Homo sapiens: one gene and its partners. The protein of the gene in region 1 interacts with the protein of each later gene in a biochemical or structural test. Each region holds a gene or a part of one and is shown in the gene's direction. Other genes may lie near its edges.

Region 1 (2,810 bases):
GAAATATGTCTAAAATATTTAAATTCTAATATAAAAAAGAAAGTGACTGTATTATTTAGGGCTGCATTTTAGTTGTAAGAAAAAAGTCCAACTCAAGCAAAAATGGCCCACACAATGGAACAGTCCCAGGACCCACCGGCTTCAGGGGCTGCTCCAGCAATGGCGCCCGGACTCCCTCTTGCTCCGCGTGCCTTCCCATGCACTGGCTTCGTGCTTCAGCGGGGTCTCTGCTGATGGTGCCATTGATGACTGACCTCCATGAGCTTGCTTTACCCCCTGCCAGCTTAAGAACAGTAGTGAAAGAGAACATGTGTGTCCTCCCATTTCCAGTAAAAACTTCAGGCAGGAGCCTCACTGGCTCAGCTTGGTCCCGTTTCCATCTCCCATGCCATCTCCGGCCAGGTGACAGGCTACCATGTCACTGCCTAGGGAAGTTTAGGAAGAGAGTGGCAAAGTGGTGCATTAGAAAGAACATGGCCAGGTCACCCCACCTCCTGGGCGGCAGGCCCAACTCCACCAGTGGTCCACTGTGTGACTTCCCTGCTCCCTCTAAGCAAGTCACTCCTCTCCTCTGGGTCTCTGTTTCCTTACCTATAAAATGAGAACGTTTCTTCATGTGATCTCAAGTCCCTTTTAAAATCGCTAGGATTCTTTGAAAACCTTTTCTATCATCTAGTGCAGAGAACTTGTTGAGGAAGTTGGGATTGGAATGAGCCTCAGCAGATGGGCAAGGTTTGAATAGGAAGAGAAGAGACATTTCAGGAGAAAGAAACAACATAGAGAGACAGATGTAGGTATAAGATATGGTAATAAGCCAAAATGTATTAAGAGTTATAAATGCATGAAATCATCATCAAAGCTTGCTTAGTGATTAACTGCTTATATTTTGCCAGTGCATATGATGTGACATTTTTCTTTAACTCAAACACTAAATTACGATGTCCTCAGGTTATCATAAACCCCATTTGACTTCATGCCTCTACTCTCTCAGGGCTGGCGCTGTGACAACTGCCGCAGACCTGGGGGTGAACCCAGTCCCGAAGGCACTACTGGCCAGTCCTACAACCAGTATTCTCAGAGATACCATCAGAGAACAAACACTGTAAGTGCATTAGCAGCACAAGTGTGTTCCCTCATACTAGACAGTCTCTTTCTACAGGTATCTTTCTTCAGAATGAACCAAGTGTTTTAATTAATTAAAAAAAAAAACAACTCATAAATGACTTAAGTGAAACACTGTATTCCATAATATAGTTTAAGTTATAATTTATGTAACTCTTGAACATCTCCTATTGCCCAGTATGCTGCTAGGTTCTTGAAACTAGGAAGAAATATTATCCTATCTATAAGCAGCTGTCATGAGTCCCCACCTCCCCGCATTTTTTTTTCTGTACACTTTACAGTATTTGCCACTAATTTTTTTTTCCTTCTTCCTTTTTAACAGAATGTTAATTGCCCAATTGAGTGCTTCATGCCTTTAGATGTACAGGCTGACAGAGAAGATTCCCGAGAGTAAATCATCTTTCCAATCCAGAGGAACAAGCATGTCTCTCTGCCAAGATCCATCTAAACTGGAGTGATGTTAGCAGACCCAGCTTAGAGTTCTTCTTTCTTTCTTAAGCCCTTTGCTCTGGAGGAAGTTCTCCAGCTTCAGCTCAACTCACAGCTTCTCCAAGCATCACCCTGGGAGTTTCCTGAGGGTTTTCTCATAAATGAGGGCTGCACATTGCCTGTTCTGCTTCGAAGTATTCAATACCGCTCAGTATTTTAAATGAAGTGATTCTAAGATTTGGTTTGGGATCAATAGGAAAGCATATGCAGCCAACCAAGATGCAAATGTTTTGAAATGATATGACCAAAATTTTAAGTAGGAAAGTCACCCAAACACTTCTGCTTTCACTTAAGTGTCTGGCCCGCAATACTGTAGGAACAAGCATGATCTTGTTACTGTGATATTTTAAATATCCACAGTACTCACTTTTTCCAAATGATCCTAGTAATTGCCTAGAAATATCTTTCTCTTACCTGTTATTTATCAATTTTTCCCAGTATTTTTATACGGAAAAAATTGTATTGAAAACACTTAGTATGCAGTTGATAAGAGGAATTTGGTATAATTATGGTGGGTGATTATTTTTTATACTGTATGTGCCAAAGCTTTACTACTGTGGAAAGACAACTGTTTTAATAAAAGATTTACATTCCACAACTTGAAGTTCATCTATTTGATATAAGACACCTTCGGGGGAAATAATTCCTGTGAATATTCTTTTTCAATTCAGCAAACATTTGAAAATCTATGATGTGCAAGTCTAATTGTTGATTTCAGTACAAGATTTTCTAAATCAGTTGCTACAAAAACTGATTGGTTTTTGTCACTTCATCTCTTCACTAATGGAGATAGCTTTACACTTTCTGCTTTAATAGATTTAAGTGGACCCCAATATTTATTAAAATTGCTAGTTTACCGTTCAGAAGTATAATAGAAATAATCTTTAGTTGCTCTTTTCTAACCATTGTAATTCTTCCCTTCTTCCCTCCACCTTTCCTTCATTGAATAAACCTCTGTTCAAAGAGATTGCCTGCAAGGGAAATAAAAATGACTAAGATATTAAAAGTATTTGAATAGTATAATATGGAGGAGTTTTATCTTAGGGAAACCCCATGGTATGATAACCCCCATCTAACATGTCTTACTTTGGGTCAGCTGACACTTTTGGCATGGCTTGATAAACTCCCAGCTAAACAGTTTGTTTACTCCTGATCTGTAAAGGTCATTTCTTTTTCAATTTAACATTGAGGAAACAAAC
Region 2 (4,185 bases), on another chromosome or scaffold:
TGTTCTAAACCCTGGCACCCAAAACACCCTCATGTTGAAAACTCTTCAATACCCCCTTCTCACACTCATCTTCAGAGCTACCATGAGGCAGAGAAGCCTCCGGAATCAGCCCACATGGGGCTGGGTGAATGCCAACACCAAGCAAGGGGAAAGTCACAAATTGACATCCAGCACCTTATTCTCCACCCTTCAGCCCCTCAACTGACTCCTGCTCCACGGCCCGTTCTATTAATATCTAGCATTTAGCACCAGCCTGGACAAAAACCTACTTGGAAAGATGGTACAAGAACCCCACACAACTCCATAGAACTTCGCTGTCTAAAAAAATGCTTTGCCGTATATTATCCCACTTAATCTCCACCACTATGCTGTACATAGGAGCCACAACTCCTAGACAACAAATAAAAATCCTATCACTTTTCAAATCCTAACATTTTCATATGACAAAGCCAGAACTCAAAATCCAGACCTCTAGAGTCCCAGATCAGGAAAGGAAGAAACGCCAAGTCAAAGAGAAGCTTCTTTAGAATAATCTGCTTTTCTGGATTATTCACACCATGGGTCAGCTCCCCACTTGAAGTCAGAACCAAGCTCCAATTTCAGTGAACCACCATCATGCTTTGACCAGGAGATTCTCTCAGAAATGTGGGGTCCCATTGAGTAGGCCTGAAGACAGAGATTGACAGGCCTATGTGAGCCTGGAGGAGTTCTTTTTAGGGGCTGGATAATGTCAAGAACAGAGAACAACTCCAGAGAAGGCACACACGCCTTCAAACCCATCCCCTCATGGGGAGAAAGCAGCCAGGAACTCAGGCCTCAAGTGTTCTAGGTGTGGTCTCCCAAGGAAACGGGCTCACTTAGTTTGGGGAAACCTTCAAACCCTGCACTGAGTCCTATGTAGACTGGGACAGAAGGTGGACAATGTAATCCCCTGAGCCCTCAACCTCCTCCTGGAGAGATGACAAGATTAAGATTTCTCTACCAGAACCCTCAACAGACACATCCCAGAATCTCCCCAAGTGAAATGTGCTCTACCTACCGTCCCTGAGAGCCCAGGGGTGTGAACCCAGAGGGCAGGTGTGGTGGGGAAGGGAGGAGGGAGAAAGAAAAGGGATGGCTGGGAGTTAGAGAAAGGCTCCTATCCAGGACCTGCCTGCAAGGATCCCAGGTATCAGCCAGCCCAACCTAGCCCTTGTTGACTTAGCAGGTGACAGTTTGGGGAAGAAGGGGAGGAGGATGCGGAAGTCACACCTCTCCAGGCTTGGTTCCCATTGGCCCTTGATATCCTTAAAAGGGCCCAGCAATTTCAGCATCCTTATTCCCCAGACCTTCTGCAGATTCTGTGGTTATACTCACTCCTCATCCCAAAGAATGAAATTTACCACTCTCCTCTTCTTGGCAGCTGTAGCAGGGGCCCTGGTCTATGCTGGTGAGTATGGCCTTTCCTCTGCGCCCCACAAGAGTCCTCCCAGTCCAAGGAGCCCCTCACTCCTGCCTTCACCCCTCTCCTCCTCTCTCAGTGCTATTCTGGTTTCCCTGCCTCTGCAAGTGACTCCTCTCCCAGTTCTCCACACGTGGCCTCTGCACCCCACTGGCCAGAGGAACCCAGAACTCTCTGGCCTCTGCCTGCCCTCCCAGCTCATCTCCTCACACACCATTGTTTACCCACTATGCCTCAGCTACACTGGCTTCTCTGGTGTCCCCTGCATGTAGTTGAGCAGGGTGTCCCCTACACGAGGGTGCCCAGGCAAGGAGTGGTAGAAGCTAAAATCTGGCCGACACTCTACTTGCCAAGCAGTGAGCCTGGCCCCTGGCTGTGTCTCTTAGGAGGAAGGGATGCCTTTTTTTTTTTTTTTTTTTTGAGACCGAGTCTCCCTCTGTTGCCCAGGCTGGAGTGCAGTGGCACGATCTCTGCTCACTGCAACATCCACCTCCTGGGTTCCAGCGATTATCTTGCCTCAGCCTCCTGGGTAGCTGGGACTACAGGCTCATGCCACCTTGCCCAGCTAATTTTGTATTTTTAGTAGAGACGGTGTTTCACCATGTTGGCCAGGTTGGTCTCGAACTCCTGACCTCAGGTGATCCGACTGCCTTGGCCTCCCAAAGTGTTGGAATTACAGGCGTGAGCCACCGTGCCCTGCTGGGATGCCTTTTTTGATCCACAGAAGCACTATTTGGGCCATGATGATCCTGCTGTTCCTTGAACATCAGGATCTTCCTTCTTGTCCTTTCCTCGTCTAGAATGCTTTCCCTCTCCCTGGCCCCTTCCCCCAACCAACTCTAATGTCACCTGGCCAATGATTTTTCATCTAGAAAATCTCAGTTTACATATAATTCCCCAAAAAGGCCTTCCATGCACATGCGGAACAAATCAGATCCATGTGCCCTTCTCGCACCAGGCTGCACGTTCCCTTCCAGCACTGTCACACCAGCCATTAAATAATTTCGTAAAAGGACAGATGTAAGCTCTGTCAGGGCAGGGGTCTTGTCTGCCCTCTTCAGCACTGCACCTCCATCTCTTGGCACAGAGCTTTGCATAAATGTTGTGTTGAAAGAATAAAGGGAATCAAGGCTGGGGTCTCAATCCTGCAAATCGCTCAAATATGGCCCCATAACCCCCACATACTGTCCTCCTCCACCACAGAGGAGGTTGAGCCCCTCTGACCATGGCCAGCTCCATGACAGACACCTCAGGGAAGCCTACCAAGCCAGGGGCCAGTCAGGAGGAAGGCACTGTTCCAAGAGACATTACACTTCTCAGAGGGGAAGTTATTTCAAAAGCCACAGGAGTTAAACATCAGAGAGTGCCCCAGTAGACCCGCTGATATGGTGGAAGGGCATGTCCAACCCAAAGGGAAATTGATCCCCTTCTATCCATGAGCATTCCCAGGAGATAAGCTTTGGGAATGGGAGGGGAGGGTGGCTCGAGTAGGTCCGGTTCGGTCCTTGCTCTCATCTGGCATGTTTCCCCCATTGCAGAAGATGCCTCCTCTGACTCGACGGGTGCTGATCCTGCCCAGGAAGCTGGGACCTGTGAGTCCTCCTCTCCCTGCTGCCCTAGCCCTCGTTGGGAAGGTTTAACAGTTAGGGATGTGAGTGGTGGCTGGGAGAAGAAGCCAGTGGGAGGAGATCTGGATTCTGTGCTTGGTGGTAATGGGGAGGGGCAGGTAATATAATAAAGAAGGTGGCATGGGTTGAAATGGTACAAGGCTAAGGACAAAAGAGGATGACCCAGAGAGGCAAGGACAATAGGGAGCATGGGGAAAAGGTTATTGTGAATAAAAGGGAGAGAAACATGAGGTTAAGTGGTAAGGGCAATGTCTCACATGGCATTAATACCTTCACCTGCAAACACCTCCCATTACTCCCAATTCCTTAGCAAGATAACCATTATCTGGCCTCTAACCTCATTTTCCAACCCCATTTTCCATGACTCTCTTTTATGTCGCACCCACATCAGCTAAATTGAACTTGTTTCCATTCCCCACACATGCCTTCGCCTGACCTCTTACTCACTGCCTGCCCCCAGGGAAGCCCCTTTGGTACATCCTCTCCTGCTAACATCCTGCCTTCAAGATCCAGCTTCTCTATGAAGTGCTCCCCGATTCTCACCATCCCCTAGTCCAAATCCTTCCCCAACCCTGCCCGCTGCATTCCAAGAGACACACAGCATGCAGAAATGCTATCTCCCTTAAGGGGGCAGCGTTTAAGCCATATCACTTCTGTATCCTGGCACCCAGCACACATTAGGTATCCTGGGGCCCTGCAACCCATTCCAAAAGAAACAAACACTTTCACTTTGCTAAAATCCATCAATTTGTGCATTCACAGCTAAGCCTAATGAAGAGATCTCAGGTCCAGCAGAACCAGCTTCACCCCCAGAGACAACCACAACAGCCCAGGAGACTTCGGCGGCAGCAGTTCAGGGGACAGCCAAGGTCACCTCAAGCAGGCAGGAACTAAACCCCCTGAGTAAGTCTCTGTCTCTATGCCAGATCAACAACCTAGAAAAGTCTCTGGCTGCAGGCCCACATCACACCTCCACGCACAGAGATAAGCCTGGTGAGAAGCAGGTAGACTCAAACAGCTGAACACAAAGGCACAAATGGGATTGTGCATTGCACCCACACACAACGTTTTCACAATAGTAGATGTTGCAGCCTGCACAATACATGGTTTCTGTCC
Region 3 (3,606 bases), on another chromosome or scaffold:
GATGAGTGGGAGCACAGAGCAGCCACCTTCAGGCAGTCACTCAGGGCCTCAGGTTGCTGGAGGCACAGCCATCTTCAGCTCTGGAGGGCATCTCCATTCCTAGTGTGCTGTATTACAAACAGCTTTTCTTTCTTCCAATGTCTCCAGCTTTCTGGCAGCATAGCTAGCCTCCTGCACACTCAGGCCATAATTGCTTAACTCAAAATGGTGTGATTCAAATTCACCCTCAGAGGCATGCTTGAAGGCATTCAAATTTGAACGCCTCTTTCACCCTTCTCTGATTAGATGTTCTTTTGTACTCACTTCTGCCCTTCCTTTCTTCCTATCTTTGAATAGGTTTTACTAGTTGCATTTGCTTCTTATGTTACCTCTCTATTTAATGATTGATTGATTGATTGAGACAGAGTCTTGCTTTTTCGCCCAGGATGGAGTGCAGTGGCACAATCTCAGCTCACTGCAACCTCTGCCTCCTGCGTTCAAGCGATTCTCATGTCTTGGCCTCCCAAATAGCTGGAATTACAGACATAAGCCACCACACCCGGCTAATTTTTGCATTTTTAGTAAAAACAGGGTTTCACCACGTTGCCCAGGCTGGTCTTGAACTCCTGACCTCAACTGATCCACCTGCCTCGGCCTCCCACCTGTCTCGGCCTCCCAAAGTGCTTACAGGCATGCGCCACCACACCCAGCTGTTATCTCTCACCATTTAGCTAAACTACTGGCAGTCTACGACCACTCCACCCCTTCTCTGCTTCAGGAGATACTTTTCAAAAGTCACTTGTGAGCAAGTGGTAAGCTGTTGCCTTACCTCAGAAAGCAGCTTCTTTTCCCTGCTGTTTTCTTGTGGGGTCTCTCATTCATCTTTCTCCTTTGTAGCTCTTACATTTCCTTCTAGAAATCTTCTCCTCCTTCATGTTTCCTTCTCTCTCCTTGCTGCCTCTCCCACATTTCTCCTCTTCCAGCCTCCATGTAAGTTGCCAGCCTCATTTAATCAACTGTTACTAGCAGCTGCATTTCATTTCCCTTTTATTCTCTACCTTTTCAGCTGACCCAGGTGGGCTGCATTTTCTTTCACTCTGACGTTCTCTTAGACCACTCACTCAGGACTACTCGTTCAACGACAGTCTCTTGTGGAGCAATTTTCCAGACTGCAAACCCTGCTCAATTTCCAAACTCCTGCATCTAGTTTACATCTGTTTGTCTCTGGCAGTAGTTCAAACCCTCCTCCCCCAATGGAAAGCTCTGGCAAGGAGTTTATTGCTCACCCTGGAAAGAGAGAACCACCTCAACAGAGATTGATAGTCTCTAGAGGGGCAAGGTGGGAAAATTATGAGATTTTGGAGTAGGGTGGCCAACTGTCACACTTTGCCCAAGACAGAGGGAATTCCAAGGATATGGGCTTTGCATTTTAAAGCCAGGACAAAAAAATGAAAGATTGTATAAAGAGGATCTTTCCATGCAGGGTCTTGTTTAGGTAAAAATCATGACATAATAGTTTAGGATTAGCATAGTGAGGATTTGGAAGTGAGGAGTTCTAAGATCTTGGGGTATAAACTGTTGATGCTTTCTGTTGAAGCATTGATGGTTCTTTGTTTCAAAAACTCTCTGTAATGAACAATAAAGCAATTTGCCTGGGCAAGAGTCTCCTGGAATTGTAGTTATGTTAATGAGGACAATGGACCAGTAAGGGTATATTATTATAGACAGTAAGCTGTGTGTTTAGGGAGGAGAGAGGTAGGTGATTTCTGTTCTCAGAGTTAACTCCATCCTCTCTTTTCCAAGGTCTGTTTCATATTCAGTGTCCTTAGTTGAAATGCCTAGTTGAAAAAACCAGAGAGTTTTTTCTAATTTTGCAAGAATGTCACAACATCTCCAGTCCCAAGTCCCTGATGTCTCTTCTAGCTTTCATTGCACTTATGAAAATAACAATAATAAAAGCATTATTTTAGAGCCCTAACTATGTGGAGGCCAAACATAAAATCCCTCATGAATATTATTTAATCCTCACAAAAGCCCCACAAAAGAGGTGTTGTTAATTGTTCCTATTTTACAGACAGGAAAACTATGGCTCAAAGAGGCCAAGAAACTTGTCCAAGGTCATATAATCAGAAGTGGCAGAGCCAAGACTCTATTTCGAGTCCATCTGGGCTATTCAGAAATAAAAAGGAGTGAACTACTAATTCATGTTACAACATGGATGAACCTCACAGACATTATGCTAAATGAAAGAAGGCAGACACAAAAGACTGCCTGTTATATGATTCCATTTATATGAAATGTCCAGATAAGGCAAATTTATAAAGAAAGAAAACTGATCAGTGGTTTCTAGGCATAAAGGAGCAAGTGGAGACTAACTGCAGATGGGCCTATGGTTACTTTTGTCATTGACAGAAATGTTCTAACCTGTGATGATGGTTTCAAAATCATGTAATGTTACTAAAAATCATTGAACTGTATGCCTACATACAATGTTTGAAGTTTATGGAATGTAAATTCTTTTTCAATAAAACTTTAAAAATTACAGAGGTCACATTCTAAGCTTTCTGACTGGTACCACCAATGACTAGATGCTGGTTCTTTTAGGTGCCACTCCTAAGGAGAAATGCTAAAGGTTTACTGGGTTCTTATATACTTTTCATGTAAGCATAGGGAATGCCTTAAACTCTTTTAGCCAATCAACCTATGTTGAATATGTTTAATTTAACCAGTGAGAGTTCATTTCTAGCAGTTACTTATTTCTCTAATGCTAACTGTGCATTCTTGATCAGCATTTATATAAACCTAAGTATGTAAGTTACTGACACACGATATTGCACTATACATGCAGAAGTGTCTTCGATTGCTGACATGACAAAATAAACCCAAGTGAACTGTGAAGACTTACCACTTCTGTACATCTGGTATGGCAATGACAGAGCCTTACTGTCCATCTTGCTGTGCTGTCGTTCATCATAAAATTCCCTCATCCTCCCACTCCAACACTCATTGTCTTGGCCAGAATACTTATAAATAATAAAGATATTTGTCTTCAACTCCTCACCAAATCATTGGAGGGATTTTTCTTTTTTCTCTAAATGTAAAAGAAAAAAAATTCTGATACTACAATTAAGAACAATGTAGCCCATAAATTAAAGTGGACAGAAACCAAGCCAACAATGCAAAAGAGCTGAGCAGCCATTGGGTCCCCGTGAGGAGACAGGAGTAGTTTGTCATTGATGGGACCCCTGGCAGCTACAGCCCCTGGGGTACCCTGTGGCGTAAATGCATATTTTTCTCATGAACGTTTGTTAAAACTGATTTATGTTGTTTTGTCTTTGATAAGAACAGATACGGATGCATTATAGTGACTGTGTTCCTTGTAACTTATACAGAGAAATTCGGAATACCAGGAACTTAACTTACATAGACCCTGATGCCCTCAAAGAGCTCCCCCTCCTAAAGTTCCTGTAAGTATTAAATCCTCTCCCATCCTACTTTTCTGGGGGGAGGGGGTCAGATTTAATGCTGTTGTCTCCCAGGAATCTCCCTAGATGATGTGGTCCAGGTTCATTTTAATGGTGTATAGCCTGGGTCGGGGGCAAGGTATCGGGTGAAATGATCCACATT
Region 4 (3,606 bases), on another chromosome or scaffold:
GGGACGTGGAGAACTGACCTGTCCTTGTTGTCGTCACCAAGGGCAGCTCCACAGCATGTATATTAAGAACACGGGTTCTAGGATCTCTGGATCCCAATCCCACTGCTTAGCTGTGCACCCTTGAACACAACTTACCCTCTCTGAGGCTCTTTCCTCATTTGCAACTTGGAGATAATAATAGTTCTTGATAAGTTTATCTTGAGCATTTTATTTAGATACTGCATGTAAAGCAGTTAGCACTGAGTTTTGGTTTATGGTAAGCACCCTGTAAATGTTAGGATATTAACAGCAACCCATAAAAACAGCGAACTTATCCGTTCTCTGGTAGAAAACATTCCATGTTGACATTTGGGCATGTGGCCAGGAGCCAATTTCTACCGTACACTGGGTTTAGTTGCCATTGACCATTTCCTGGAAATACTTCTGCGTGCTCCTGATGGGAGCCTCTATTTGGCTGTCTCTAAGCCAAAACCATTTGTGACCATCAACTCTGTACTTTAGTTAAACAGGATGGTGGCTGGAGCCACTGGTCCCCGTGGTCATCTTGTTCTGTGACATGTGGTGATGGTGTGATCACAAGGATCCGGCTCTGCAACTCTCCCAGCCCCCAGATGAACGGGAAACCCTGTGAAGGCGAAGCGCGGGAGACCAAAGCCTGCAAGAAAGACGCCTGCCCCAGTAAGTGTGAGGTCCGCTGCAAGGGTGAGCATGGGCAGCAGCTCTGCCCAGCTGGTTGCCTGGCATCTGCAGCCTGCAGTTCAGTGGGTCATAGAGCAGGAAGGTTACCTACTAGAGAAACAAACAGAAGCAAAGTCCTGCAGGCTCAGCAACTTCTTTTAATGAAAAACAAACTCACCCTCTTCCCCAGCATTCTTTCCATGTGTCAGAGAAGCAGAGGTTTCTTGAACGGGCTTAGGAGAGTCTATGACAAGGGAGGGATTTGAAAGTTGATCTTAATTGTTGCCTGTGGTTCATCTTCTTACAGTCAATGGAGGCTGGGGTCCTTGGTCACCATGGGACATCTGTTCTGTCACCTGTGGAGGAGGGGTACAGAAACGTAGTCGTCTCTGCAACAACCCCACACCCCAGTTTGGAGGCAAGGACTGCGTTGGTGATGTAACAGAAAACCAGATCTGCAACAAGCAGGACTGTCCAATTGGTGAGCCACGCAGCCCAGGATGAAACGACCCAGGAGCTTTGCTCTTTTACTGAATGCTGCAGTCAGCATTCGAGGAGATTCCAGCTTGGTTAGTCCTGAGCGATTTGATTGCTCTAAGATGCAGGTGGACAACATAATCCCAACAAGTTATCGGTTCCCTATACCCTATAATATCTTACACTGTGTTAAGTGCCCAGCATGGCAGTATGGCAGCTTAGACCAACCATTTACTGTGACTGTCTCTCTCTCCTTGTCTCAGATGGATGCCTGTCCAATCCCTGCTTTGCCGGCGTGAAGTGTACTAGCTACCCTGATGGCAGCTGGAAATGTGGTGCTTGTCCCCCTGGTTACAGTGGAAATGGCATCCAGTGCACAGATGTTGATGAGGTGAGGAACTGATGGGGCTCCGAGTTTCTGGATCTAGGAAAGCAGCTAACCTGTGCAGTCGCTTCCTTATGGCAGTGACTTCTAAACATGATGCACGCTCTTATTTCCTCCATAGTGCAAAGAAGTGCCTGATGCCTGCTTCAACCACAATGGAGAGCACCGGTGTGAGAACACGGACCCCGGCTACAACTGCCTGCCCTGCCCCCCACGCTTCACCGGCTCACAGCCCTTCGGCCAGGGTGTCGAACATGCCACGGCCAACAAACAGGTACAGTCAACTAGACGAGTAAACCAGAGGACAGGAGAGCTGTCCTTGACCAAAATAACTGGGAGCGGGAGGAATGTAATTTCATACCCTTCACCAAAAAAAAAAGGGCGAGGAGATGAATGTACGGTCTAGTTTTAGAAACGTGATTAGAAAATCCATGGTAAATCCTGCAGGGGAAAAACAGTCTTCCATATTTAAAAATGCTGCTCTGGAATAAGTTGTGAGCAGATGGACTTGTAAACGCCTAGGTGCTGAGCAAATTCAAGAAAAATAAACATAAAGCAAAGTTTGCTTATAGCCTCAGGGAGAATGGGGAGGGACAGAGGTAACCCACACTCTTCCAAATGGAGCCTCTGTCTACTCAGAGATGACAGGGATCTGGATTCTTGTTTCCATGATATCTGAGGATTCTCAAAAGCTCTGTGTAACAGCAGCATGGTGTACCCTCAGGTGTGCAAGCCCCGTAACCCCTGCACGGATGGGACCCACGACTGCAACAAGAACGCCAAGTGCAACTACCTGGGCCACTATAGCGACCCCATGTACCGCTGCGAGTGCAAGCCTGGCTACGCTGGCAATGGCATCATCTGCGGGGAGGACACAGACCTGGATGGCTGGCCCAATGAGAACCTGGTGTGCGTGGCCAATGCGACTTACCACTGCAAAAAGGTAGAGCCAGGTCCTTTGTGTGCCTCCAGAAAGAGGGCCCATCACCTTATCAAAACACAGGCTAAGGAATTTTAAATACTTAAAGTTTGGACATGAAACTGAAAGATTAAATCTCCCAAAGGGAGAGGGGCACTAATTCCTATTAAAATTAAATCACTTGGTGCCAAAAACATGAACAGGGCTAGCTCTTTTTGGGCAACTGTGTTCCATAGTCAACTCTTCTGTCCAAAAAAAAGTTCAGTACTCTATCCAAATACCAGCAAAGCATGACTTGTGTTCACAACATCTATAAAGCCTAGAGCATTTACACAAATTCTGTATGTATATCCCCCAAGAAAAGTTTTATTTTCTTGTCTTCCCATAAAAAAAATATGCTGTTACTGAGCCAAATTCTGTTCTTTTTCTATTTGGAATTCCAGGTACACTCCCTCGTGCATGAGCTCAGCATGAGGAAGGCAACTGAAGCAGTGATATATATCTTCTCTTTCCTAGGATAATTGCCCCAACCTTCCCAACTCAGGGCAGGAAGACTATGACAAGGATGGAATTGGTGATGCCTGTGATGATGACGATGACAATGATAAAATTCCAGATGACAGGGTAAAAACAGTTTTCTATCCCTTTTTCATCTTTTCAGTTCAGCAACAGCCTGAAACACTTTGGGATTCAAGGAAATTACATGGCTATAGCAAAAAATATACCAAATCAATACACAGGATAATTAGAAATTATTCATTGTGTTCCAGTAGTTTAAGGATGTAGATGTTGCCAAGAGAATTTTTAAATGAGGGTTTTGTTTTTCATCAGAACTGTTTTTCTCTGTACTTGAGAAATTATAATGCATAAACAAATGCCACTTTGTTCCCTAGATTCATTTCAAATGTCACATCGAAATTACAGTAAAATTGACTTTGGGCACACTATGAACTGAGATGATGGGATTATATTCTACATCTCACTAACTTCTAACCCACAGGGATCCATTTTTTTAACTATGTCCTTTTAACTTTTGTAGTGATCGTTTTACACTGAGTGATCAATTAGCCTATCCACTAGGTAGAAAGTATTGCTGATTTTCACAGTTTTAGACATATTATGCACATGGTTTGAGGCTTGAGCTGTT

Evidence for each region. The genes of interacting proteins can lie anywhere in the genome.
Region 2: the proteins of FN1 (region 1) and LACRT form a complex in vitro, tested with the Homo sapiens proteins (one study listed by BioGRID).
Region 3: the proteins of FN1 (region 1) and TSHR form a complex in vitro, tested with the Homo sapiens proteins (one study listed by BioGRID).
Region 4: the proteins of FN1 (region 1) and THBS1 form a complex in vitro, tested with the Homo sapiens proteins (one study listed by BioGRID).

Annotation. Positions count from the first base shown.
Region 1 is NC_000002.12:215,360,261-215,363,070, reverse strand, and holds the end of FN1 (fibronectin isoform 1 precursor), read left to right. Parts: exon of another isoform or gene 1-418; coding exon of another isoform or gene 419-425; intron 426-991; coding exon 992-1,102; intron 1,103-1,444; coding exon 1,445-1,516; 3' UTR 1,517-2,206; downstream 2,207-2,810. Other genes in the region: bifunctional purine biosynthesis protein ATIC, read right to left, coding at 419-425. UniProt on the Homo sapiens protein: Fibronectins bind cell surfaces and various compounds including collagen, fibrin, heparin, DNA, and actin. Fibronectins are involved in cell adhesion, cell motility, opsonization, wound healing, and maintenance of cell shape.
Region 2 is NC_000012.12:54,632,028-54,636,212, reverse strand, and holds the start of LACRT (extracellular glycoprotein lacritin precursor), read left to right. Parts: upstream 1-1,317; 5' UTR 1,318-1,371; coding exon 1,372-1,429; intron 1,430-2,979; coding exon 2,980-3,033; intron 3,034-3,831; coding exon 3,832-3,972; intron 3,973-4,185. UniProt on the Homo sapiens protein: Modulates secretion by lacrimal acinar cells.
Region 3 is NC_000014.9:81,084,583-81,088,188, forward strand, and holds part of TSHR (thyrotropin receptor isoform 1 precursor), read left to right. Parts: exon of another isoform or gene 1-3,333; coding exon of another isoform or gene 3,334-3,371; coding exon 3,372-3,446; exon of another isoform or gene 3,447-3,606. UniProt on the Homo sapiens protein: Receptor for the thyroid-stimulating hormone (TSH) or thyrotropin. Also acts as a receptor for the heterodimeric glycoprotein hormone (GPHA2:GPHB5) or thyrostimulin. The activity of this receptor is mediated by G proteins which activate adenylate cyclase.
Region 4 is NC_000015.10:39,587,541-39,591,146, forward strand, and holds part of THBS1 (thrombospondin-1 precursor), read left to right. Parts: intron 1-501; coding exon 502-678; intron 679-985; coding exon 986-1,159; intron 1,160-1,418; coding exon 1,419-1,546; intron 1,547-1,661; coding exon 1,662-1,814; intron 1,815-2,264; coding exon 2,265-2,483; intron 2,484-2,975; coding exon 2,976-3,083; intron 3,084-3,606. UniProt on the Homo sapiens protein: Adhesive glycoprotein that mediates cell-to-cell and cell-to-matrix interactions.